7 linked regions of the Homo sapiens genome follow. The protein of the gene in region 2 purifies or fractionates together with the protein of the main gene of each other region. This does not show direct contact. Each region holds a gene or a part of one and is shown on either strand. Other genes may lie near its edges.

What was found.
Region 1: the proteins of AKAP8L (region 2) and RRBP1 purify together in Homo sapiens (tandem affinity purification; one large-scale study listed by IntAct). This does not show direct contact.
Region 3: the proteins of AKAP8L (region 2) and TOP2B purify together in Homo sapiens (tandem affinity purification; one large-scale study listed by IntAct). This does not show direct contact.
Region 4: the proteins of AKAP8L (region 2) and NEK10 purify together in Homo sapiens (co-immunoprecipitation; one large-scale study listed by IntAct). This does not show direct contact.
Region 5: the proteins of AKAP8L (region 2) and ZKSCAN5 purify together in Homo sapiens (co-immunoprecipitation; one large-scale study listed by IntAct). This does not show direct contact.
Region 6: the proteins of AKAP8L (region 2) and ANP32A purify together in Homo sapiens (tandem affinity purification; one large-scale study listed by IntAct). This does not show direct contact.
Region 7: the proteins of AKAP8L (region 2) and KATNIP purify together in Homo sapiens (tandem affinity purification; one large-scale study listed by IntAct). This does not show direct contact.

What each region holds. Positions count from the first base shown.
Region 1 is NC_000020.11:17,675,743-17,679,242, forward strand, and holds part of RRBP1 (ribosome-binding protein 1), read right to left. Parts: intron 1-3,500. UniProt on the Homo sapiens protein: Acts as a ribosome receptor and mediates interaction between the ribosome and the endoplasmic reticulum membrane.
Region 2 is NC_000019.10:15,412,489-15,415,988, forward strand, and holds part of AKAP8L (A-kinase anchor protein 8-like), read right to left. Parts: intron 1-3,500. UniProt on the Homo sapiens protein: Could play a role in constitutive transport element (CTE)-mediated gene expression by association with DHX9. Increases CTE-dependent nuclear unspliced mRNA export.
Region 3 is NC_000003.12:25,630,408-25,633,907, forward strand, and holds part of TOP2B (DNA topoisomerase 2-beta), read right to left. Parts: coding exon 3,434-3,500; intron 2,388-3,433; coding exon 2,286-2,387; intron 2,177-2,285; coding exon 2,039-2,176; intron 533-2,038; coding exon 394-532; intron 63-393; coding exon 1-62. UniProt on the Homo sapiens protein: Key decatenating enzyme that alters DNA topology by binding to two double-stranded DNA molecules, generating a double-stranded break in one of the strands, passing the intact strand through the broken strand, and religating the broken strand.
Region 4 is NC_000003.12:27,289,384-27,292,883, reverse strand, and holds part of NEK10 (serine/threonine-protein kinase Nek10), read left to right. Parts: intron 1-1,297; coding exon 1,298-1,400; intron 1,401-1,493; coding exon 1,494-1,622; intron 1,623-2,129; coding exon 2,130-2,267; intron 2,268-3,500. UniProt on the Homo sapiens protein: Plays a role in the cellular response to UV irradiation. Mediates G2/M cell cycle arrest, MEK autoactivation and ERK1/2-signaling pathway activation in response to UV irradiation.
Region 5 is NC_000007.14:99,511,162-99,514,661, reverse strand, and holds part of ZKSCAN5 (zinc finger protein with KRAB and SCAN domains 5), read right to left. Parts: intron 2,210-3,500; coding exon 2,071-2,209; intron 1-2,070. UniProt on the Homo sapiens protein: May be involved in transcriptional regulation.
Region 6 is NC_000015.10:68,782,896-68,786,395, forward strand, and holds part of ANP32A (acidic leucine-rich nuclear phosphoprotein 32 family member A), read right to left. Parts: intron 1,701-3,500; coding exon 1,502-1,700; intron 159-1,501; coding exon 61-158; intron 1-60. UniProt on the Homo sapiens protein: Multifunctional protein that is involved in the regulation of many processes including tumor suppression, apoptosis, cell cycle progression or transcription. Promotes apoptosis by favouring the activation of caspase-9/CASP9 and allowing apoptosome formation.
Region 7 is NC_000016.10:27,553,144-27,556,643, reverse strand, and holds part of KATNIP (katanin-interacting protein), read right to left. Parts: intron 3,031-3,500; exon of another isoform or gene 3,011-3,030; intron 1-3,010. UniProt on the Homo sapiens protein: May influence the stability of microtubules (MT), possibly through interaction with the MT-severing katanin complex.

The sequences.
Region 1 (3,500 bases), on a different chromosome or scaffold from region 2:
ATGGTAGGAGTGAAGCTAGAGCGAAAGTGCCCTGAGAGGCCACTGGAGACCTTGACCAAGGAGGGTCTTGAACAGAGGAGTGACATGGTCTGCTCTGGCAACAGACTAGAAGGCAGGGGGTATAGGCAAAGGCAGGGAGCCCACCAGAGGCTAGAGAAATAACCCGGGGCAGAGGTGAGAGCAGGCTGGGCATGCTGGCTCACGCCTACAATCCTGGCACTTTGGGTGGCCAAGGCAGGAGGACTCCTTTAGCCCAGGAGTTCAAGACTAGCCTGGGCAACGTGGCAAGACACCATTTCTACAAAAAAACCTAAAAATTCACTGGGTGTGGTAGCATGCACTTGTGGTACCAGCTACCCAGGAGGCTGAGGCAGGAGGATTAACTGAGCCTGCAATGTTGTAACTGCAGTGAGCAGTGATTGCGCCACTGTACTCCAGCCTGGGTGATAGAACAAGACCCTCTCAGAAATAAAAAATCAAAAGGTAAGAGCTGTTTGGACCAGGGAGAAGGCAGAAGTGGTGAGAATGGTCACACTGGCTCTGTCTGGAAGGTAGAGCTGATGGGACCTGCTGCGTACAGGGTACAGGTATGAGACGGCGAGGAGTTAAGGATAAACCGAGGTTTGTGGCCTGAAAGGTGGAGCTAGCTGGCCTAGTTTCATTTTATAGGAGGGAGAAAACTGAAGCCCAGGGAGGAGAAGTCATGTCCAAAGTCACTCACTCACTCCAGGGATCAGAACACCCAACCAGTGCTTCTCCCACTGCTCCACACAGCAGCTCCGTGGGACAAGCTGATGACTAGTCCGGTCACACCGGACAGCCCCCAGCACCCTGAGGGACTGCCAATACCCAAGCACATAACATATATTGGGGTAGGATGCTGGGCACTGAGAGCACAGGCCCAGCTTAGAGAGGACAAACACAGTCCACGGCTGCCACACAAGAAAGTCAACCTAGTGTAGCCAGAAATTCCCATTTTCCCCCAGAGAACCCAAAAATCTAGATTTTGTTTTTGTTTTTTATTATGAGACAGAGTCTCACTCTGTCGCCTAGGCTGGAGTGTAGTATGATCTTGGCTCACTGCAACCTCCACCTTCCAGGTTCAAATGATTCTCCTGCTTCAGCCACCTGAGTAGCCAGGACTACAGGCACATGCCACCATGCCTGGCTAGTTTTTGCATTCTTTATAGAGATGGGGTTTTGCCATGTTGCCCAGGCTGGTCTCAAACTCCTGGGCTCAAGCGATCCACCCGCCTTGGCCTCCCAAAGTGCTGGGATTACAGGGATTAGCCACTGTGCCCAGCCCAAAAAATCTAGATTTTAGTGAAAAAAAAAAAAAAAATTCCACTTTTAAAAGGTGACTCAATTGCTTAATAACATGAGGTCAGTGAAACAAATTCCATGTGAAGGCCAAGTTCAGCTCACACAGGGCACCAGTTTGGAATTCCTCTCAAGACAGCCTAACAGACCTTGTTTGCTTATACCCTAACAGACCTTGTTTGCTTATACCTTGCCCAGGATAGAGAATTAAAGATTTGAATTCAAGATGGTCTTTTATTCCAACTTTTGAGTCAGCAGATGATATTCATTATCACTATAAATAGTCTGTAACTTCCAGTAGTCTTAGTGGGCCTCCTTTCTGACCAGAAAGAGATCAAGTAGCTGTCCATCATTCAGCTTCTTCCTTTAAAGTTAAACTTTGGTTTTATATTATTCTTTACAGAGTACTAATACTAAGATGAGCCCACAAGTACAACCAAGAATTCAAAAATTATTCCCCAGTACTGCCCAATGATCCTTTCGAAGTTATATGGAGGCCGGGCACGGTGGCTCATGCCTATAATCCTAGCACTTTGGGAGGCCGAGGAGGGCAGATCACCTGAGGTCAGGACTTCTAGACCAGCCTGACTAACATGGTGAAACCCCGTCTCTACTAAAAATACAAAATTAGCCGGGTGTGGTGGCGCATGCCTGTAATCCCAGCTACTTGGGAGGCTGAGGCAGAAGAATCACTTGAACCCGGGAGGTAGAAGTTGCAGTAAACCAAGATCACGCCATTGGACTCCAGCCTGGGCAACAAGAGCGAAACTTTGTCTCAAAAAAAAAGAGAAAAAAGAAAAAGAAAAAAAAGTTATATGGAGAATAACAGAGCTGTGTAAATAGTCACTGGTGTAGGAAGCAATTTATGCCACCCAAGAACACTGGAACTCCAATACTTTGGAACTGAAAAGGTTTCGGGACTGGGCAGGTATTCTAGTCTTGCCAAAAAAATCTAAGTTAGAAATCACAAAATGTTCTTGATAAGTTAAAGTTGCTGCCCATTGTTGACAGGTGGAAGACACATGTTACTGAATGCACATAAAGGACACACACGTCTGGTTTTGGGGGTGTCTGGTTGTCTGCTTCAGGAGACTCGGCCAGAATTTGTCTGCCTAAGAAAAGTCTCCTAGGAGGCCCCTGAACTAATTTTCTATATGCTAAGTGAGAGTGCCTCCTTGCCTAGGCACTGTCACTTAAAATTAAATATTTACCTTCCCTTACAAGCCATCACTTTCTACCTAATATCAATTTATTTTCTGTCTTTGTTACAAGTCACCATTTTGATGCTGAGGGCATTGGGTAAAAAATCTCTCCAGGAAAGGGCCACTATCTGTGTGGCCCCCCTCCCACTCCTTTTTCTTGGAATGCAGTTTACAATGCACACAAAGAGGCGGGACTAATGCTTTCTCAGGGTGAGATCTTATCAGGTGAAGTGTATCAACTGCCACTAGTCAACTGGTTTTGACCTACAGAATGGGCAATTTCATGTGGTTCAACATATTACCACATGATCAAGAGGAACAGGGACATGAATGTTTACAGAATACCAGCTGCCTCTACATCAGCACTGTCTAGAACTTTCTGTGATGGTGGAAACCATCTACAGCCACGCTGACCAACTTATGACTACTGAGCACCTGAAATGTGGCTAATTTGACTCAGAAATTGAATTTTTAATTTTACTTAATTTGAATTGTTTTAAACTTAAATTGCTACTTGTGGCTACTGTATTGGACAACACAGTTCTAGACAGTAGCTTTTTCAGGCAAGAACTAGGTCTCACTTGCGGTGTTTGAAGGCCCACCACACAGGAGACCCTCGGTGAAAAAAATGAAATGAAAAATACCTTCAGCACTGCCAGATTTTCAAAATGCCTCCCCACCTTCCTGCCACTGAAGCTCTTAATTTTGATCTTCACGTTCTGTGTCCTCCCTTGGGTAATTATTGCCCCAGGAAGGTGGAGGTATATAGCCAGGAGGGAACATTTGGAAGGCCGGGCCCACATCGCCTAGCAACTGGGCAACAGGAACTGGCCTGACAACCTTCTGACCAGCTGGACCTCCACATTCTCATCCACTGAATGGGTGACAACCATTCCCACCCCCTAGAACAGGGTTATTTTAAGGCCTAAATGTAAACCACAGTTGTGGAATCTGATTCTAAAAAGTGAACCTTAAAAA
Region 2 (3,500 bases):
CCTGACACTTGCTTTAAAACTACATTAAAAAAAGAAAAAACAACAACTCTACAGTTAGAAATACATATATATTTTTTTGAGACGGAGTCTCGCACTAGGTTGGAGTGCAGTGGCACGATCTCGGCTCACTGCAACCTCCACCTCCCGGGTTCAAGCGATTCTCCTGCCTCAGCCTTCTGAGTAGCTGGGACTACAGGCGCGTGCCACCATGTCCGGCTGATTTTTTTGTATTTTTAGTAGAGATGGGGTTTCACCATGTTAGCCAGGATGGTCTCGATCTCCTAACCTTGTGATCCGCCCGCCTTGGCCTCCCAAAGTGCTGGGATTACAGGCGTGAGCCACTGCGCCCGGCCAGAAATACATATTTTTGAATAATTTTCTCTCAGCACTGAAATTACGACAGATACCATAAGAGGCAGTATTTGCCTTTCCCATCAGAGCCAACTCATGACCTGAAAATTAAAGCCTATGCCTTTAACAGCTTGTTTACATCAAAAACCTACAGAAGTGCCTTCCCCCTGGGTAAGCGTTCTCTTATTTGTTGACAGTGTCTCTATTTTATCTCTTAAGACCACAGCAGCAGCAGCCAACAGCAAACAAGTGCTTTCCCTGCAGGGTGCTAAGAACATTTATCTGCAATGATCTCATTTCATCCTCACCACAGACAATAAGGGCAGGTGGGCAAGATTCCTTACTCTGCAATTCCCCCAGGTCCAAAAGGGTCTGAACACCAAGTGTTTTCTACCAGTGTGGTGCCAAAACTCACGCTGGAGCTGTTTTCACCTGTAAGGACATTTATAATCTTTCTTTGTCCTACTTAGTGCAGAATTAATCTATTTAAATACAAGGTGCTTCCCCAGACCCCACGTGACTTCTCTTAAGCTAGAATTCCAAAATACATCTAGCTCCAAGGGTTCCAAAGACGGAGCTGTGAACCCAGCTTCATCTTCACTTTCCAGAGTAGGGACTGGGACTTGAGGCAGGATAAAACCGAGGGTATACAGATCCAGTCTTCTACCTTCCCTAAGTAAAGAGGCTAGAAATCCATTCAAATGGATTCCTTCCAGGGATCTGGACCTTCCTGAGATGCCTAAAATCCAGGCATTGTTGATTAATAGCTGTCCATAAGAAACACTGAGAGCAGCTTTGAAGAGTTCACCCAGGGGAAAGCCTTATAATGTAAGGAATACCCAGCCCCTGCGGTCTCCACTGTTTGCTCAACTGGCCTCTGGAAACTTGTTCTTTCAGCAATTGGGCCACCAGTAAAATGGCCTCAGACTTTAGGTAATGTGATCTGTGAGTACTGCAACTGCAAATGACAGCCTACCACACCCTCACAAGATACAGTCAGCAAGCTGCTGAGCAAAATATCTGTGTCTGTTCAGGCGAGAGGGGCCCTGGTGCTTCCCTAGGAAGGAAAGACGATCCATCAAACCCTCCAAGATCAATGGCAATCTCTGCTCTAACTCTATACCCTGCACCACATTAACATTCTGTTCCACAATACCATCTGCAAAGATCGCAGAGCAGGCCCTTCTGTAGCCAGTTTTGGCTCCTATTATGAATAATTCTTTTTTTTTTTTTTTTTTTTTTGAGACGGAGTTTCACTCTTGTTGCCCAGGCTGGAGTGCAATGGTGCGATCTCGGTTCACCGCAACCTCCACTTCCCAGGCTCAAGCGATTCTCCTGCCTCAGCCTCCCGAGTAGCTGGGATTACAGGCATGCGCCACTACGCATTTTGTATTTTTAGTAGAGACGGGTTTTCTCCATGTTGGTCAGGCTGGTATCAAACTCCCGACCTCAGAAGATCTGCCCGCCTCGGTCTCCCAAAGTGCTGGGATTACAGGCGTGAGCCACCACGCCCGGCCTAAATTCTTAGCTGGTTTGTAAAGTGTTCTCTTGGTACAATTTATCAGCCTGATTAGCGCTGGTTGAAAAAAATAAAATATGCCCTATATGGCCCTATAAAGCTAAATGTTAGATCACAGATTTCTTTTTTTTTTTGTTTGTTTGTTTTTGAGACGGAGTCTCGCTCTGTCGCCCAGGCTGGAGTGCAGTGGCACGATCTTGGCTCACTGCAAGCTCCGCCTCCTGGGGTCACGCCATTCTCCTGCCTCAGCCTCCTGAGTAGCTGGGACTACAGGCACCTGCCACCACGCCTGGCTAATTTTTTGTATTTTTCACAGAGATGGGGTTTCGCTGTGTTAGCGAGGATGGTCTCGATCTCCTGACCTCGTGATCCGCCCACCTCGGCCTCCCAAAGTGCTGGGATTACAGGCGTGAGCCACCACGCCTAGCCCACGGATTTCTTTCTTTCTATTTTTATTAGAGACAGGGGGTCTCACTGTCATCCAGGCTGGAGTGCAGTGGCACAATCACTGCTCACTGTGGCCTCAGCCTCCGGGGCTCAAGTGATCCTCCTACTTCAGTCTCCTGTATAGCTGGGACTATAGCCACGCACCACCAGGCCCAGCTAATTTTTGTTTTCTTTTTCTTTTTTTGTTTTGAGAGACAGGGTCTCACTATGTTACCCATGCTGGTGTTGAATTCCTGGGCTTAAGCAATCCTCTCACTTTGAGACCATGGATTTCTAGTTCTGCAGCAACACTCCTTGCTTTTAACCAATCTCTCGTCAACTTTTTTTGCTCAAAAATACAAAAGCAGGCCAAATGCTGTGGCTCATGTCTGTAATACCAGTACTTTGGGAGGCTGAGTTGGGAGGATCACTTGAGCCCAGGAGTTCAAGACCTGCGTGGCAACATAGTGAGACCTCATCTCAGAAATAAAAAATTAGCCAGGCATGGTGGCATGCACATGTAGTCACAGCTACTTGGGAGGCTGAGGTGAGGTGGGAGGATTACTTGAGCACAGGAGGGCGAGGCTGCAGTGAGCTATGATTTTGTGCCACTGCACTCCAACCTGGGCAACATAGTGAGACCCTGTCTCAACAAAACAAAACAAATGCTTCTCAGTTTTATACTTTTCCTTTCTCCTTTTTAAAAAAGAGTATATATTTTCTTGAGACAGGATCTTGCTCTGTTGCCCAGGCTGGAGTGCAATGGCATGATCATAGCTCAGCAATGTTGAACTCCTGGGCTCCAGCAAACCTCCCAGTCAGCCGGGCGCAGTGGCTCATGCCCGTAATCCCAGCACCTTGGGAGGCCAGGGAGGGCGGATCACAAGGTCAGGAGATCAAGACCATCCTGGCTAACAAGGTGAAACCCCGTCTCTACTAAAAATACAAAAAATTAGCCGGGTGTGGTGGCGGGCACCTGTAGTCCCAGCTACTTGGGAGGCGGAGGCAGGAGAATGGCATGAACCTGGGAGGCGGAGCTTGCAGTGGGCCGAGATGGCGCCACTGCACTCCAGCCTGGGTGACAGAGCAAGACTCCGTCTCAAAAAAAAAAACAAAAAAAAAATCCCAGAGTCTCGCTGTCATCCAGGCTGGAGCACAGTGGCACAATCATGGCTCACTGCAGCCTCAACCTCGCAGAGCTAAC
Region 3 (3,500 bases), on a different chromosome or scaffold from region 2:
CAGTGATTTGGCAGAGTCTCCCTCTGTTAATATCAGTGTACACTCCAGGGAATGTTTACCACCTGAGAGAAATTTAAAATTATACATAGTAAAAATTTCTCATACTTTCACTGATGAGAAAAATGAAGTCAGAAAATTAACATTAGAATGCTGACAGTGAAAGACTATAAAAGTTATTTTACATTATTGCTCAGTATAAATATTAAGTATATTTTATTAAATTCCTATCCCCTGAAAATTAGTAATATGTTGTGTATGTGATAATTTCAATGAAGTAAAATCATACTCTGAATGGAAAATCATAGTCTAACTATATGTAGAAAATAAAAAAATTCTGTAACTAAATAAAAGTGAAACTTAAATCAAAATCTTATTTAAAAATATCAATCTTACCAGCATCATTAGCATCATCCAGTTTGGGAATACCTTTGATTTTACTGTATTTTACTGATGAACACTTCTTATTCAGCTGAGTCTGAGCCTTAAATTTCACCCAGTTCAGGATACTTTCTACAATGCCACAATTAGAGGCCTAAAAATAAAAGAATAATGGTATACAAACAAGCTGAAAATTCATACATTTAGCTAAAATGTATAGGGCCTAATGCAAGACCTGGAATCTGTGCAATTTTAAGGTATTTTAGGGCAAAACAATAATGGTGATAAGCATCATGATACATGCTAATCAGCTTTTACTCAACTACTGTAAAATTAAAGCTAAAATATAAATACATGAAAAAGGATAACTTTTACATATGAGAAACATTCTATTATAATAAACTCCATGAGGAATATGCATTGCTCTTGTTACAAATTAATTTTATTAAAATTAACACAGTGAAAACAGATCCACACATGAACCTACTAGCCGGCAAATTCCAGACGTTGACATTTCTGATATCCTTCAATACAAAACGTGAGTCTTTAATTCACTATGACAAAAAGTATTAACCTAAAAGGAACATTAGGATAACCTTGGTAACTTATGAATAGACTTTTATTCTTTAAATAGCTTGGTAATAAAGATTTCAACATTACATATTGTTTGTACTCTGCAGTGAATCAATCTGTGGCAAGATGTTAACCCAGACAGAAAAAGGAAAAGAAAGTTAAGCATCTCCAACTCTAAGTCCTAAAAGTTTTTTTATCATCCTCGGTGATTTGATGTTAGGTGTATAAAACAGTTTTCTGGAATGTTTAAGACATAAACAAAAGAGGTGAACTGTGTTGTCAAATTTAAACTTAGTGCACCTAAAATGAAAAAGTATAAAATTTAAAATCAAATCACTTCATCAAGGAAACAATTGTTATGAGGACAGAAATTTGGGAAAGCATTAATATAGCATAATTTGTACTCAGAATTCATTAAGATTAGATCCAAAAGTACTATTTCTACAGGCCTTAAGTTAGAACCTAAAAAACAACTTTTGTTTTTGTTTCTGATAATCTACTTTTTGGAATTTGAGAAATACATTAGTTCTAGGGCAGTTATAGAGCATTTCCCCACCAAAATTCCAAAGAGGAGAGGCTGTGATTGATTCATCTCCATTATTTATTTGTGCTCTCACCTTATTTTAGAGAAGTTAAGGTAGCCTAAAAAAATTATGTGCAAAGCAAAGCAATTTAAGAACATGTAGAAAATAGTACATTTTGTTATACATGTTACCACAATTTTTAAACATGTATAAAGATAAGAATCAGTAGATCAAGTTGAAATGAGAGTAGAAAAGATGAAAGAGTTGCATAAGGATCTGGACATCTGTTAGGGGAAATCTGACCTTTACAATGGTCAATACAAAGCTAAAAATGCAATTAGTTACATAATTCCCTACTTTAGTTCTTGGCAAAACAATTGTTTTAGGAAACATTAAAGTCTACCCTTTAAAGTTATCAAATTAAGCATATTAGTTTGTAGTGCAAGCATGCTTATACCCACAGTTAATACGATGAAAGAAACTAATCACAAATAAAGTAAATCAAGAAAACTACCTAATCAACTCTTAATAACAACAATAAAAAAAATACAAGTTTTACTCACTGCTTTAAAAAATTTTTCTGACAGCTGGCATTTAGACCCAAAACTTTTGGGCTGCAGAGTCATGTTTTCCTTAGTCTGAGAATCAAAAGTTGGATTTTCAATAAGGCAATTAATAAAAACCCATATATGGTTTTTTACCTGTTGAAAACATACCCAAAAAAGTCAATATCAGAGCTGATATTTAGTAATTCAGTATATATATAATGCATATGTATGCATCATGTACAATATATAACACATCCCTTACTTGAAATGGTTTCACTGATACACCAGCTTTGTTCTTTTTCTTAACTACTTCAATCAGTTTACCAACAACTTGATCTACCACATAATCCACGTGCCGTCCACCCTAAAGAAAAAAAAATATATGAAATCTGAAATCCTGTATTGTTAAAGTAGCAAAATACTTTATCTGTATTATAAACCCTATTTTCTAAAAGAGTAATAGAGTCTCAGAACGAGAGTTGAGATTTTAAAAAAATAAGACATTTTGGCTACAGAGCCAATAAACCAACCGCTGTGTTTTTTTTGTTTGTTTGTTTGTTTGCTTTCCTCACTTCAATTCTAACACCAATTCTCAGGTGCTTTCAACACCAGCAACCAATTCTCTGATTCTCCAGACACCAAATGGATGTTCAACAATGTAATTCAATTTTGATACTAACTACCTGGAGTTAGCACAAGTATTTAGGGTTGGTTAAGGGCTCAATCCCACAGGACTCCCCACACTTCAGATGCCAGTTACAAGTCCTAGGCCTCCTGTACTTCTAACGAACCTATGACCCACTCCTCAGGAATGATAATTTGCTGGAACAGGTCACAGAACTCAAGAACACACTTTACTTCATTTACAAGTTTTTTATATAGGATCCAGCAATAATAGCCAAATGGAAGAGATGCATAGGGCATAGTACAGGGGAAAGGGTACACAAAGCTCCATGCCTTACCCAGACATGCCACCCTCTTGGCACCTCAAATGTATTCACCAACCTAGGAGTTCTGTGAACTCCATTGTTCAGGAGTTTTTACAGAGCTTTATCACATAGCCATAATTGATTTTTAACTCAGTCACCAGCCCCCTCTCCTCTCCCCAGAGGTTGGGGAAGGTGGGGCTAAAAGTTACAGAAAAAGGAATTTGTTATTCTAAATTTCATAAAATATAAATATGTTCAACTACAAACACTAGTCATATAAATTTATTTCTCAATAATTGTTTAAATAAATTTTAATACAGCAATTTCATAGAAAATAGGTTTTTGTTTTCATAAGTCAATTCTTATTTAACAAAAACAGATTTGGGTTTTTTGGGGGTTGTGGATATTGTTATTTGTTTTGTAGTTTTTATTGAAGTACTGTTCTACCACTGACTTGGAAACAAATAATTTGCTTACTTACTTTTGTAGTTGCAATACTATTTACAAAGCTGATTTGCTGGAATCCTTTTTCACTCAATGTGAGACAA
Region 4 (3,500 bases), on a different chromosome or scaffold from region 2:
TGGCTGAGATCAAGTGCAGAAAGCATGGAGCATTTTATGTTGTTACTTTATTTCTATACTGTTTGGATTTAGAGGAAAATGAAGTAAAATTAGTTCTCTTTTTTTTTTTTTTTTTTGACAAAGGCTCATCCTGTTGCTTCTCCTGCCTCAGCCTCCTGAGTAGCTGGGACTACAGGCATGCACCACCACACCTGGCTAATTTTTGTATTTTCAGTAGAGATGGGTTTTCACCACGTTGGCCAGGCTGGTCTTGAACTCCTGACCTCAGGTTATCCACCCGCCTTGGCCTCCCAAAGTGTTGGGATTACAGGCGTGAGCCACCACACCCAGCTACTTATTCTTTATAATCTTTCATTTCAGAGCTCTAAATCATCCCTTTTAGTGAACTCAAAGATTTTAAAACCCCTTGAAACCAGTGTCTTGGGAATGATGAATGAATCTCTTTATTTGTTTTATTTTTCATGTACCAGTATTTTTATTTTCATGAAACTTTTATTTAAAAGTTGGGTTAGTATTTACTTCTTACTAAAATCTGAGTTAAATGACATTTGTGAAAGTGCTCCACACCCAAAAAAACACCCAATAAATGTTTCCTTCTAATGTATTCAATGCCTATACCCCCAAATATCTTACAAGTAAGATTTTTGTATAATCTGTATCATATCTAATTTTAAATTATGGTAAAAATATTAACATGCCATCTACCTTCTTAAAATTTTAAGTGTACAGTGTTATTAACTGTAAGCACAAGGTTGTACAGCAGATCTCTAGAACTTTCTTCTCCATTTGTTTTTTTCTTACCTCTCAAAAACTGTAAATAGTGTATTTTTTCGAGATAAGTTGGGGAATATTATTTCCCCAACTTTGTTGATAACCAAAAGAAGTTAAATTTGTTTCATGTAATTAATCAGTGAGTGAGCTGCATTCAAAAGGGAAGTAATGGGCCGGGTGCGGTGGCTCACACCTGTAATCCCAGCACTTTGGGAGGCCAAGACGGGCGGATCACGAGGTCAGGAGATCGAGACCATCCTGGCTAACATGGTGAAACCCCGTCTCTACTAAAAATACAAAAAATTAGCCGGGCATGGTGGCAGGCACCTGTAGTCCCAGCTACTTGGGAGGCTGAGGCAGGAGAATGGCGTGAACGTGGGAGGCAGAGCTTGCAGTGAGCTGAGATCGTGCCACTGCACTCCAGCCTGGGTGACACAGTGAGACTCTGTCTCAAAAAAATAAAAAAGGGAAGTAATGATCAACTGTGTCCAAGTTCTACTTTAAGTGTGTGTAATATTCTCTGTAGACTTTTCCCCACAGACTTGTTTGAGATCTTCATTGACATAGGGCATTATGTACGTGATATCAGTGCTTATGAAGAATTGGTATCCAAGCTGAATTTATTAGTGGTAAGTCCTGAGTTTTCAATATTTTGGCAGGCTGCTATGTAGTCAGGATGTAATTTATCACAGAAACCCATTTCCTTTTTATATTTTGATTAGGAGGATGAACTGAAGCAAATTGCTGAAAATATTGAAAGCATTAATCAGAACAAAGCTCCTTTGAAATATATAGGCAACTATGCAATTTTGGATCATCTTGGAAGTGGAGCTTTTGGCTGTGTTTACAAGGTGACTTTCCCCTTGGGGAACATTTCTGATACTCCCAACCAAACCGGATGTCACACTTGCACACCGATATTCAATTGAATTAGAACTCTTGTCATTGAAAAATAGCAAACAGATATGAAAATTAGAATGATTGTTTTTGTCCAACAGAGATAGCCACACTAATATTGTTTTAGCTGTAAGCTCTAGAAATTGGCCACTGACTTTTTAAGACAAAAGGCATTATTAATCTCTCACAAAGGTATTCAAAATAGTTTCTCCCAATGCATGATGCAATCTCTAAATTAAAAAATGCTACTAAGTATTGCAGACTGACCCAGGGGATACCAGTGTTTTGATGTTTTGAGCTGAGCTTAATGTAAATACAGCTGGAACTTTAAATGCTCTGTGACTTATTTATATGACTTAGTTACTCATGTGACTTTGTTAGTCTATCTCTTTCTTCCTCTTTCTCTCTTCTCCTTCTTTACCCTGTTCCTTTTGTTGTTGTTGTGTTTTTCTTTATTTTAGGTTAGAAAGCATAGTGGTCAAAATCTTTTAGCAATGAAAGAGGTCAATTTACATAACCCAGCATTTGGAAAGGATAAGAAAGATCGAGACAGCAGCGTAAGGAATATTGTTTCTGAATTAACAATAATTAAAGAGCAGGTAAATGTTTTCCTTGTTTCTGAAGATGTTTTTCTTAAATACATGTCATTGCAAGAAAGTAGAGTTGTGGTGCTCTTGTCCATGCTGCTTATGAACTAGTTCCATGTGAAATAATTGACACTGAAGCAGTGATATTTTTGCCAGCTTTTTTCCTAAGGCTTGACATTGAAGCATAAAACACTGTCTGGAGTTTATATCAGGGTCATGGATGCAAAACAATCGGATTTACAGTACAGAATGCATCATATATGAGAAATCCTTTTCTTTTCATTGTGAGCATATCTATTCTTTTCTCCTTATATTTTAGGATATTTGGTTACTTAGTTACATACATAGAAATATGACTAAGAGTTTCTTGACTTTTGCCAAATGGAACCAAGCTGTTAACATTCCTCAAATATGACTTTATTAGATCTAAAATGTAGATTTTCAAGTTGGGTTATTATGTATTGGCATGAGCAGAATACTCTGATATAATGTAACAGCTCAATTAACTCTCATTATGAAAGTTTGTTTGAGGAGGAAGAATAAACATTTCAAAGAGAAATGGAATTTCTTTGTGTGATCCAAGAACACATTGGTTTCTTTTTCAGCCTTCCTTATTTGCACATTCATCACGAATACTGTTCATTTATAATTCCTGTGGTGCACTATCAGCTTTGCTGCTTTTGTCCTCCACTGGTCACATTTGCATAGCATCTGTGTTGGGATGTAACAAATTCCATAAACAAGGAGACCTTTGTTCATAAAAATCGATAGTTCTACTCCAGTGTGTACATTATAGTAAATATTATCATTAATTGTTTATTTTATAGTTGATTTTATATACTAATAGACTAGACTTTAAAAAGTTTGTTCATGTGTAGTTTGTTCATGTGTTTGTATGGTCATCTAGCCTTCCACAGTGTGCTCTTTCATTGTAGCACAAGGCTAGAACAGGGCTTTTGACCTAAGCCAGTCCAGTGTTTTCATCTGGACCCAAATTTGGTTTTAGTCCTTGTGGGTGAGCCAGGTCCAGAATATGGTTCTGGTTGGTTACCTGGTCACATATTGCTTACGATCTGCTGGCCACTTGCTAGTTGATGCAGTAGATTATTTGTTTTAGCACATTTCCTAAGAAAAGAAACTGTCAAACTAGGGTCAGATAGGAAGCATATGCTTGGGCTTTGAGGTAACTCAAAATTGCCCTCTCACTAGAGGATCAAACTGATGGAAAGGATGATAACATTGAGT
Region 5 (3,500 bases), on a different chromosome or scaffold from region 2:
GTGCTGGGATTACAGGCATGAGCCACTGCACACGGCCAATTTTTGTATTTTTTGTAGAGGTGAGTTTTCGCCACATTGCCCAGGATGGTATCAAACTCCTGGGCTCAAGAGATCCACCTGCTTTGGCCTCCAAAAATGCTGGAATTACAGGCATGAAGCTACTTTCTTTTATACCAAAAAGATCGCTAACACCTTTGTTTAGCTTTCATTGAACACGGTTGAGAATTCCAAATTTTTCATTTGCTGCCCACATTGGCAAAGAGAGGAAAATTTGAAGAGGATGACTATTATTAGGCAACTCAGTAGATGACACAGAAAGACAGCTGTACTCTCTAATGAGAATCATGAAACTGAAAGTGTAACAGAGATTCTAGAATGAGTTTCAAATGATAACATCCTAGATAAATTTTCTTAAACTCAAGAATCAATGATGAACAATGTATTTCTAATTTCAAAAAGGGAAATGGCATTCTTATCTTGTGAGTCATTCAACAGCAAGGACTTCATCACACAGTATTTTGTAATAATAAGATAATAAGAGATTCTGGACCATCACATTTTGCTAGAAGGACTAAATTTGCTAAAAGCATTGTGTGACAGTATTCTTTTCTTTTTTGAGACGGAGTTTTGCTCTTGTTGCCCAGGCTGGAGTCCAGTGCCACGGTCTCAGCTCACTGCAACCTTTGCCTCCTGGGTTCAAACGATTCTCATGCCTCAGCCTCCTGAGTAGCTGGGATTACAGGCACGCACCACCATGCCCAGCTAATTTTTTGTATTTTTAGTAGAGACGGTGTTTCATCATGACGGGGTTTCATCATGTTGGCCAGGCTGGTCTTGAACTCCTGACCTCAGGTGATCCACCCACCTTTGCCTCCCAAAGTGCAGGGATTACAAGTGTGAGCCACTGAGCCCGGCCTTGTTTTTTTGTTTTTTTAACATAAGCATTAAGACAAGAAAATCTATGAGGGAGGCTGAGCGCAGTGGCTCACACCTCTAATGCCAGCACTTTGGCAGGACAAGGTAGGTGATCACTTGAGGCCAGGAGTTCAAGACTAGCTTGGCTAACATGGTGAAACCCCATCTTTACTAAAAATCCAAAAATTAGCTGGGCATGGTGGCAGGCACCTGTAGTCCCAGCTACTCAGGAGGCTGAGGTGGAGGTATCACTTGAACCTGGGAGGCAGAGGCTGCAGTGAGCCAAGATCGCACCACTGCCCTCCATCCCAGGCAACAGGGTGAGACTCTGTCTCAAAAATAAAAGAAAGACAATCTATGACAGAAAGGCAAAAATCTGTGATACTTTTGTAAAAGACGTGTAGATCTTTTAACAGTCCCTGTACCCAGAGCTGTCATCATTTGCGTTGTAGGTTTTTAATGAAACTGGTGTAATTCAGCAATAAACATACGTGTGCATGTGTCTTTCCCAAATGTCCAACAATGATAGACTGGATTAAGAAAATGTGGCAGTACACCATGGAATACTGTGCAGCCATAAAAAATGATGAGTTCATGTCCTTTGTAGGGACATGGATGAAATTGGAAACCATCATTTTCAGTAAACTATCGCAAGAACAAAAAACCAAACACCGCATATTCTCACTCATAGGTGGGAACTGAACAATGAGAACACATGGACACAGGAAGGGGAACATCACACTCTGGGGACTGTTGTGGGGTGGGGGGAGGGGGGAGGGATAGCATTGGGAGATATACCTAATGCTAGATGACGAGTTAGTGGGTGCAGCACACAAGCATGGCACATGTATACATATGTAACTAACCTGCACATTGTGCACATGTACCCTACAACTTAAAGTATAATAATAATAAATAAATAAATAAATAAAAGAAAAAAAAAGAAGCTGGTGTAATTCCTAGCCATTCTAGGAATGGCTTTCATTGAACACCAGGGACTCAACTCCAGGTCCCTGGCCTTTCCCTGCTTCTAGACCCTGCAGGCTGTAGAGAGGCTGCTCAGCCTAGAGTCTCTCTCCCGCAGATAGTGCCTGCCACATGGCCAAGGCACCCACTCTTGAGCTATATCAGTTCCACTGAATCACTGAGCCTCACCATTTTCCTCCAGGAGACGAGGCTTCTGTGGCGCTTGCTCAGGCTGGGTGTCCACGGTCAGGGGATGGGGGCTGCAGGACTCCTGCACTGCTCCAGGTGTTGCCATCTTCCGAGGAAGCACATCAGGGCAGGCAACAATCTAACAACCACAACCAAAACCGATCAGTACAGTTACAGAGAAGGCCACGAAAGAAATCAGTAGAATCATGGTGGACTTTCATTCATTCCTTTGCCAAATATTTAATGTGCATCTACAATGAGCCACGCACTGATTATGCAGTTACTTAATAAACATGGTTTACTTCTAGTTGGAGAAGACGTTCATCAAACACATCAAAACACAAATAAATACATAATTACAAACTGGGCTGTATGTTGGAAAGGAGAAGAAACTAATTCCATGAGACAGAACACAGGAGACCTATTTTAGACTGGGAGGCCAGGGAAGGCTTTCTGGAGGAAGTGTCCCGTAAGCAAACACTTAAAGGTTGAGAAGGGCTGGGCGCACGGGGTGGCTCACGCCTGTAATCCCAGCACTTTGGGAGGCTGAGGCAGGTGGATCACTAGGTCAGAAGATCAAGACCAATCTGGCTAACACGGTGAAACCCCGTCTCTACTAAAAAAATACAAAAAAATTAGCCGGGTGTGGTGGTGGGCGCCTGTAGTCCCAGCTACTCAGGAGGCTGAGGCAGGAGAATGGCATGAACCTGGGAGGCGGAGCTTGCAGTGAGCCGAGATTGCGCCACTGCACTCTAGCCTGGGTGACAGAGCGAGACTCCGTCTCAAAAAAAAAAAATGGATGAGAAGAAGCCAGCCGGGAAAAACGTAGAAGTGACCCAGGCAGAGAGAACACTGAAACGGTAGCTCATGCCTATAATCTCAACACTTTCGGAGGCTGAAGCAGGAGGATCGCTTGAGCCCAGGAGTTCAAGACAAGCCTGGGCAACACAGTGAGACCCTGTCTCTCCAAAAAATTAAAAAATTAGCCAGGCATGGTGGCATGTCCCTGTGGTCCCAGCTACTTAGGAGGCTGAGGTGCGAGGATCGCTTGAGCCCAGGAGGTCAAGGCTGCAGTGAGCTATGACACACCACTGCACTCTAGCCTTGGTGACAGAGCAAGACCCTGTCTCAAAAAAGAAAGAAAGAAAGAAAGAAAACAAAATTCTCAGGCAGAAAGAGGATGTCTAGTACAGTCAGGAATCATGAGAAGGCCAGTGTGTGAAGAGGAAACAGAGGTGAGAAGGGAGATTGGAATGGTCATCATAGCACTCAGTAAGTCACACTGGACAGACCAACACTGAGACTGAGGCTACCTCACACCCCTTCTGTTTTTGGTTCTTGCTCAGCCCTAGATATACACAATTACTCTGCCACAACCACTCTCTAGAACCTGGAATTCTGGAAGGTACTAGCTCACTACTAACATATTG
Region 6 (3,500 bases), on a different chromosome or scaffold from region 2:
CAGTCAGTGGGACTGCCTCAAAGGGGCAGACGGTGGCCCTGCCCAGCCCAGCCTCCTTACCTCCTCCTCTCCACTCACGTCCTCCTCTTCACCTTCCTCCTCCTCATCCTCGTCCTCCTCGTCTTCCACTACCTGAGCATCTTCATCATACTCCTCCTCTGTGCAATCGAAATGGGGAACGGAAACAGAACTAGTGGTGAGCTGGCTCCGCCCCCCACACAGCACAGGCCCCTTGTAGCGTCTTCAGTGTGGGGCTCATGACCCTCCCACACCCACCTAAGTCCAAAGATGGAACACACTAACTCTCATGAAAACAGTGCTGACATAATTAAACACATCCTGAAGTTGTGCCAAAGATAAGCCCCCCTCACAAGTGTTATGCATGTGAAAGGCCCCTTCTGGAGGCCTCTCACACCGAGACCACCAGGAAATTGTCAGAGCACAGCAACAGGTTCCAGGGCCCGGGAAAGCGGCAAGATCAAATCAAACTCCTCAGGTTAAAGGTGAGAGATCTGAGGCACAGAGAGAACTGACTTGTTCAAGGTCACGCATCGAGTCACTAGTTGAGCTGGGCCTAGGGGACCTGGTCCCGGGACTGCCAGTTTTGGCTCCTTTCTGCCATATCACAAGATCCCCACCAAGGCAAACATGGTCTCTGAGTATCTTGCAAAACACTCCCAATTGAACAAAGAAAACCAAAATCCTGTATCTGAATTAATTAATCAGGCAAGTGTCTCCATTCTCAACTTTATCTGGCCACGAAGATGCATGGGAAAGCTGCACTGTGCTGGTGGCAAGGGAGAAGGGGAGGGAACAGGACTCCCTTCTTTTCCCTCCTTCCTTCCTGTAGGCCTCGACTACACACCACACTGCCAGGGAACCCAACAAGTGGCCTGCAGTCCTCCACTTCTGAGCACCTGGGGCTCCTGAGCACCTGAGCCTGTGCCCCTAGGTGTGGGGCTGTAGGCTGCAACCACCAGGGGGCCCCACAACCCCTCTAGCTCTGGACCTCCTCTCCACTACTGAATACCTAGATGGGAAAGAGGGGTCCTCAGGCCACACACTCTTCTCTCTCTATCCCCTCCCTCCCTCCCTGGGAGAGTGTCTAAGTGCGGGTCACACTACAGAAAGACTGTAGAATCCCACTCCCTGGGGGCTTTGGAAAAGGGACAAAAATTGAAGTGGGGATTCAGTTGGATGGTTTTAAAGGAGTTATTATGCAGTTGGAGAATCTCAGGATATTTCCATGAGCATGGGACTCATGCTTTGTTCTTTTAGGGAAGTCAACCAATGAGACAGATTAGGGACTATGGAAAACAAAGCAGACAGCCCTACTCCCCTCCATAGCTTTGGAAGGTGGTAGCTACCAGACAGACAGCCAGCCTTCAGTAGCTGGGTGGGGGCCTCCCAACACCCAGCCCACCCACCTCTGCAAAGCCAAGGACGAGCCCCAAGGCCTCAGCTGGGCCCCTGCAGCCCTGGGCCGCACCCTGTCACCCACCATCCTCATCCTCCTCCTCATCATCCAGGCCCTCCACGTAGCCCTCAGCATCCGAGTCAGGGGCCTCCTTGTCGTCCCGGTCATAGCCGTCGAGATATGTGAGTTGCGGGAGGAGCTTGAACACATTTTCTCGGTAGTCGTTCAGGTTGGTTACCTCGCAATTGAAAAGGTCTAAGCTCTTGAGGTTTTCTAACTTTTTCTGCAAGCGGAAAAATGAAGCCAACAGTAAGTGATTTGTGGGAGGAAGGTGGAGGAACAGCCCTAGCAAACAGGCAAGGATGCCATGAGATAGCATGCGCAGACCATGACTTCCAGGTGATAAGGAAGCTTGGATTTGGCTCTGCTTAGCCACAGTGTTTGCCCAGACATATCACCTGCAGTTTGTGGGCCTCGGCGTCTCCATCTGGAAAATGGGGGGTTGGACTGGAGGATCTTTGAAGCCTTATCCAATGTTAACACTTTTATTCTGCAATTACAGCTTCTGTCTTAACAGTGATTGACTTGAAATTAGCCTGGGGCTTTCTTGGTGCATGAGCCAAGAGGTTTACTGCCTCTCCCTGAGACTAAGGAGCCAGAGGGAAACCAAAAGTCAACTTGAACTAACAAACTAACTCCTTCTGCATCTGATAATGATGATGATAAGGGCGGTTAACATGGCACTTCATGTACTGAGTCACTTTATCTCACAACCCCTGTAAGGTAGAAATAATTATTAGTTAATTTCACATATGTGGAAATGGAGGGCACAGGATTTGGTAATTCATCAGGCAGCCCAACTTCAGACCTGTGCTCTTACTCTTTGAATATTGCCTGTCAAAAAAGGACAAGAGAAAAAGCAATGGAGGACCCCAATTCTGTCCATGGTATTTGACACGATGTGCTCTGTCAAAGCTTTACACCAGACGGGTTCTAGCCAATGTTATCCCTGTTTGATGGTAGAGGAAACTGAGGCCCAGGAAGTGAAGGGTCATACTGCTTGCAAGTAACTGAGCTACATTTTGACTTCCCACCTCACCCACCTTTGAGGCACCAGGTACAAAAAAATCCCATCCCAGGCTGAGTCCCCATTCCAAAGGTGGCCAGGTCTAACAAGGGAGTGAAACCATTGCTCCTTGGAGTCAATGTCGGGAGCTAGGTTGCTCTCTCTATGACCTTGCAGTTGAGACCTGGGTCATTCTCAGCAGAAGCCAAGGGCAGGGAGGAAGTCTTGACAGTGGTCTGTGTGGGCAAGCCCAGCACCTGCTACCAAAAGCAGCTTCCCGCCCCAGGACGGTAAGGCAACACACACTGACAAGCAGGGGCGGAGAAAGCACTGAGACACGTGTGATCTGGGCAGGGGGCAGTGGAGAGTGTGAACATGAACGTGCCTGAGTGCCTGACCCCTAATGGTGACTGAATCACAATGTTTTACAAGGATTTTATATACTCAATCCCCATACCTCACCCATATACAGAACTTCAAAGACTTTTTCCTTTTGTAATGACATTATAAAATCAAGACTTCCAGACAGATCAAAATAGTTTGGCTTTTTCCTAGGAGACCAGTGAAAGGCCTGAAAAGAAGTTCTGTGGGAAGCACATTCTACTAGTTGGCCCCAATGCCATCGATGGACAGGTAAAGAGCTTGGAAAAGAAATGCCAGTGTCCTCTTCTGCCACACTGGCCACCAGCAAGTCCCGTGAGCATCCATGGAGAGCAAGGAGTGCCTTTTGGGACAGAAACCCTGAAAACTCCAGCCCAATCTGAGGGATACCCAACCTCCCCTATAAACCCAGAAGGGAAATTTGGCAAACGTGGCCAATTGTCCTCCTGGCCTTTCCCTGATTCTAAGATGCCTGAGGTGCTGCTGCTGCTGCTTTTTTTTTTTTTTTTTTTTTTTTGGAGACAGAGTCTCACTCTGTCACCCAGGCTGGAGTGCAGTGACGCGATCTCAGCTCATTGCAACCTCTGCCTTCCAGGTTCAAGAGATTCTCCTGCCTCGGCCTCCCGAGTGGCTGGG
Region 7 (3,500 bases), on a different chromosome or scaffold from region 2:
CAGTCTGGGATTATTTGGACAAGTGAGGCTAAATATCATCTTGGCATTATTAATTATTTGAGAAAGTTTGCTAAGCAAATGAACAGTATAAACAAGGGAAATGTTGAATATTTGCTCTAGGGGAGCAGTGAAAAGCAAATGAACAACTTCCAAATCCTTTCTAATTATATCAATGTGCTGAACTTTTGTCTAATTATTATGTTCCTTGAAAATGAAATAGAATTTTTTTTCCTAAACCATTTCATATTTTTAAAGTACTGGGGAAAATTCAACTTTAACAGAAAGGCGAACATTTTCATAGGCAGAAAACACACACTGCCAATGTACCTTCATGGAATAAAAAATGTCAAACATTGGATTTTCTCTTAAGCAAAGAGTGTGCTAATTACAAAAGTTATCATCTGCTAGAGAGCTTCATCAGCACGCTTCCCTCTTCTGTCAACTGTGTGGAATAAGTCTGCCTATTTGCAGATAATGATAACAACAGCTACTATATAGGAACTTTTTTTTTTTTTTTGAGACAGAGTCTCACTCACTGGCCCAGGCTAGAGTGCGGTGGTGCAATCTCAGCTCACTGCAACCTCCGCCTCCCAGGTTCAAGCAATTCTCTGCCTCAGCCTCCCGAGTATCTGGGATTACAGGCACCCGCCACCACACCTGGCTAATTTTTGTATTTTTAGTAGAGACAGGATTTCACCATCTTGGCCAGGCTGGTCTTGAACTCCTGACCTCGTGATCCACCCATCTCAGCCTCCCAAAGTCAGGCATGAGCCACCGCGCCTGGCTGTAGGAACTTTTTTTTTTTTTGAGACGGAGTTTCGCTCTTGTTGCCCAGGCTGGAGTGCAATGGCGCAATCTCGGCTCACCACAACCTCTGCCTCCCAGATTCAAGCGATTCTCCTGCCTCAGCCCCCCAAGTGGCTGGGATTACAGGCATGCACCATCACACCCAGCTAATTTTGCATTTTTTTAGTAGAGACAGGGTTTCTCCATGTTGGTCAGGCTGGTCTCGAACTTCTGATCTCAGGTGATCTGCCTGCCTCGGCCTTCCAAAGTACTGGGATTACAGGCGTGAGCCACCGCGCCCAGCCAGGAACATTTTTTTATATGCCAGACTTGATGCATTGTTTCATTGAAGCCACAAAACAAGGTAGGCTTCATTATCATGTCCATTTTACTGACAGGAAAACCAAGGCTCAGAGAGGTCAAAGTGTACAGCAGAGATTCAAATCCAGGGCTATCTGGCCCCCAAACCTAAGGACATTACACTGCATCACAGAAACAGATAGGACCTGCCCAAAGTCAAAATCAAAAGGCCAGGGAAAGGGTTGTGAAAAGCTATGGTGATTAAGACATGCCGAATAAACTAAATTACAGTCCAGTTTGGAGGGCATCTGCTAGACATTTAAGCTTTTGTGAACGTAGGAAGTAAACATCTTTCTAATAAGGCCAGGCTTGGCTTACCTAGTTAGTTAGAATCACAATAAGGTATGCTTCACTTTATCCAATAAATAGGTATGTGCCTATAAAATTATGTATAAATCAGGGCCAGGTGCGGTGGCTCATGGCTATAATCCCAGCACTTTGGGAGGCTGAGGCAGGTGGATAACCTGAGGTCAGGAGTTCGAGACCAGCCTGACCAACATGGTGAAACCCCATCTCTACTAACAAAAAACAAAAAAGTTAGCCAGGCGTGGTGGCGTGCACCTGTAATCCCAGCTACTCAGGAGGCTGAGGCAAGAGAATCGCTTGAACCTGGGAGGCAGAGGTTGCAGTGAGCCAAGATCACGCCACTGTACTACAGCCTGGGTGACAGGGCGAGACTCTGTCTCAAAAAAAAAAAAAAAAAAAAAAGTGTAAATCAAAGTTTAAAAAATCAGAACAGAAAATGGGATTCTTTGGAGGTCAAATATGACCCTAGGGTAAACACTTCTGAGAATAAATTTTTCCTTTTGGGGGCCAATCTGAAAATGAACATACCCCTCTACTAGGCTACAATAACGTCCTAAGACTGCAAGTACAGAGATGCTCATTAGAAGGCACAAAGCAGCCTTCCTGAAAATGGACTGTAGCAATGTTTCTCAAAGGTGCAGATCCTGGGAGAAGGAGGGGTCCACAAAGACAAAAGTATTTTAATCATAATTTGAAGAGTATTTCACTGTGTTGAATTTTTTTTCTTTTGAGACAGTCTCACTCTGTTGCCCAGGCTGCAATACAGTGGCATGATCTTGGCTCACTGCAACCTCTGCCTCCTGGGTTCAAGCGATTCTCTTGCCTCAGCCTCCCCCAAGTAGCTGGGACCACAGTTATGTGCCACCATGCCCAGCTAATTTTTGTATTTTTAGTAGAGACAGGGTTTCACCATGTTGGCCAGGCTAGTCTCAAACTCCCGACCTCAGGTGATCGCCCACCTTGGCCTCTCAAAGTGCTGGGATTACAGGCGTGAGCCACCCCATCTGGCTGTGTTGACATTTGTACTTATGACACAAAGCAATGGTGGGTAAAACTGCTTGCAGTCTGAATCAAGGCAATGTTACCACAATGTACTAGAAACCTTCCCTCCTTCCTTCCTCCCTCCCTTCTTCCATCCCTCCCTTCTTTCCTCCTTCCTTTCTCTCTCCTCTCCCTCCCTTCTTTCCTTCCTTCCTTTCTCTCTCCTCTCTCCCCCCACCCCACCCCCTGCTCTCTCTCTCTCTAGACAAGGTCTTTTTGCCCAGGCTGGAGTGCAGTGGCACAGTCATGGCTCACTGTAGCCTCAACCTCCTAAGCTCAACTGATCCTGAGTGGCTGGGACTACAGGCACGAGCCACTATACCTGTCTAATTTTTTACTTTTTACAGAGATGGGGTCTCACTAAGTTGCCCAGGCTGGTCTTGACCTCCTGGGCTCAAGTGATCCCCACACCTCAGTCTCCTTAGCAGCTAGAACCACAGGTGCATGCTACCATGCCTGACTATTATTTATTTATTTATTTATTTTATTTATTTATTTAGTAGAGATGGAGTCTCACTATGTTGACGAAGCTGGTCTTGAATTTCTGGGCTGAAGAGATCCTCTTGTCTTGGCCTCCCAAAGCGGTGGGACTATAGGCGTGAGCCACTGAACCCAACCATCAGGACATTCTTAAATAAAAATAATTGTTTGTTTGTTTTAAATGTGAGTACATGGCAGTAAATAAAATAATAGACAAATTTTGGTTATTCAGTCTTGGGAATTTGGCAGAAATTTTCTCAAATATGAAATAAGTGAGTCTGTCACTTCAAGGAAACAGCTGACAATATTTGCTGCCAATGTTAAAATTCAAGCTGTCAAGTGAAAACAAGTTGAAAACTTGTTTCCATTACCTTGAGTTTGATAGTTTCCTAATACTTAAACTCCTTTTTAAAATGAAATAGGTGGTGATATTAACAAATGTGATTTTTTAAATACCGTATAATGGCATCTGAAAGGTCAACGTTTAGATTTGCATAACTCACTGAACCAACATTTTCTAAACGACC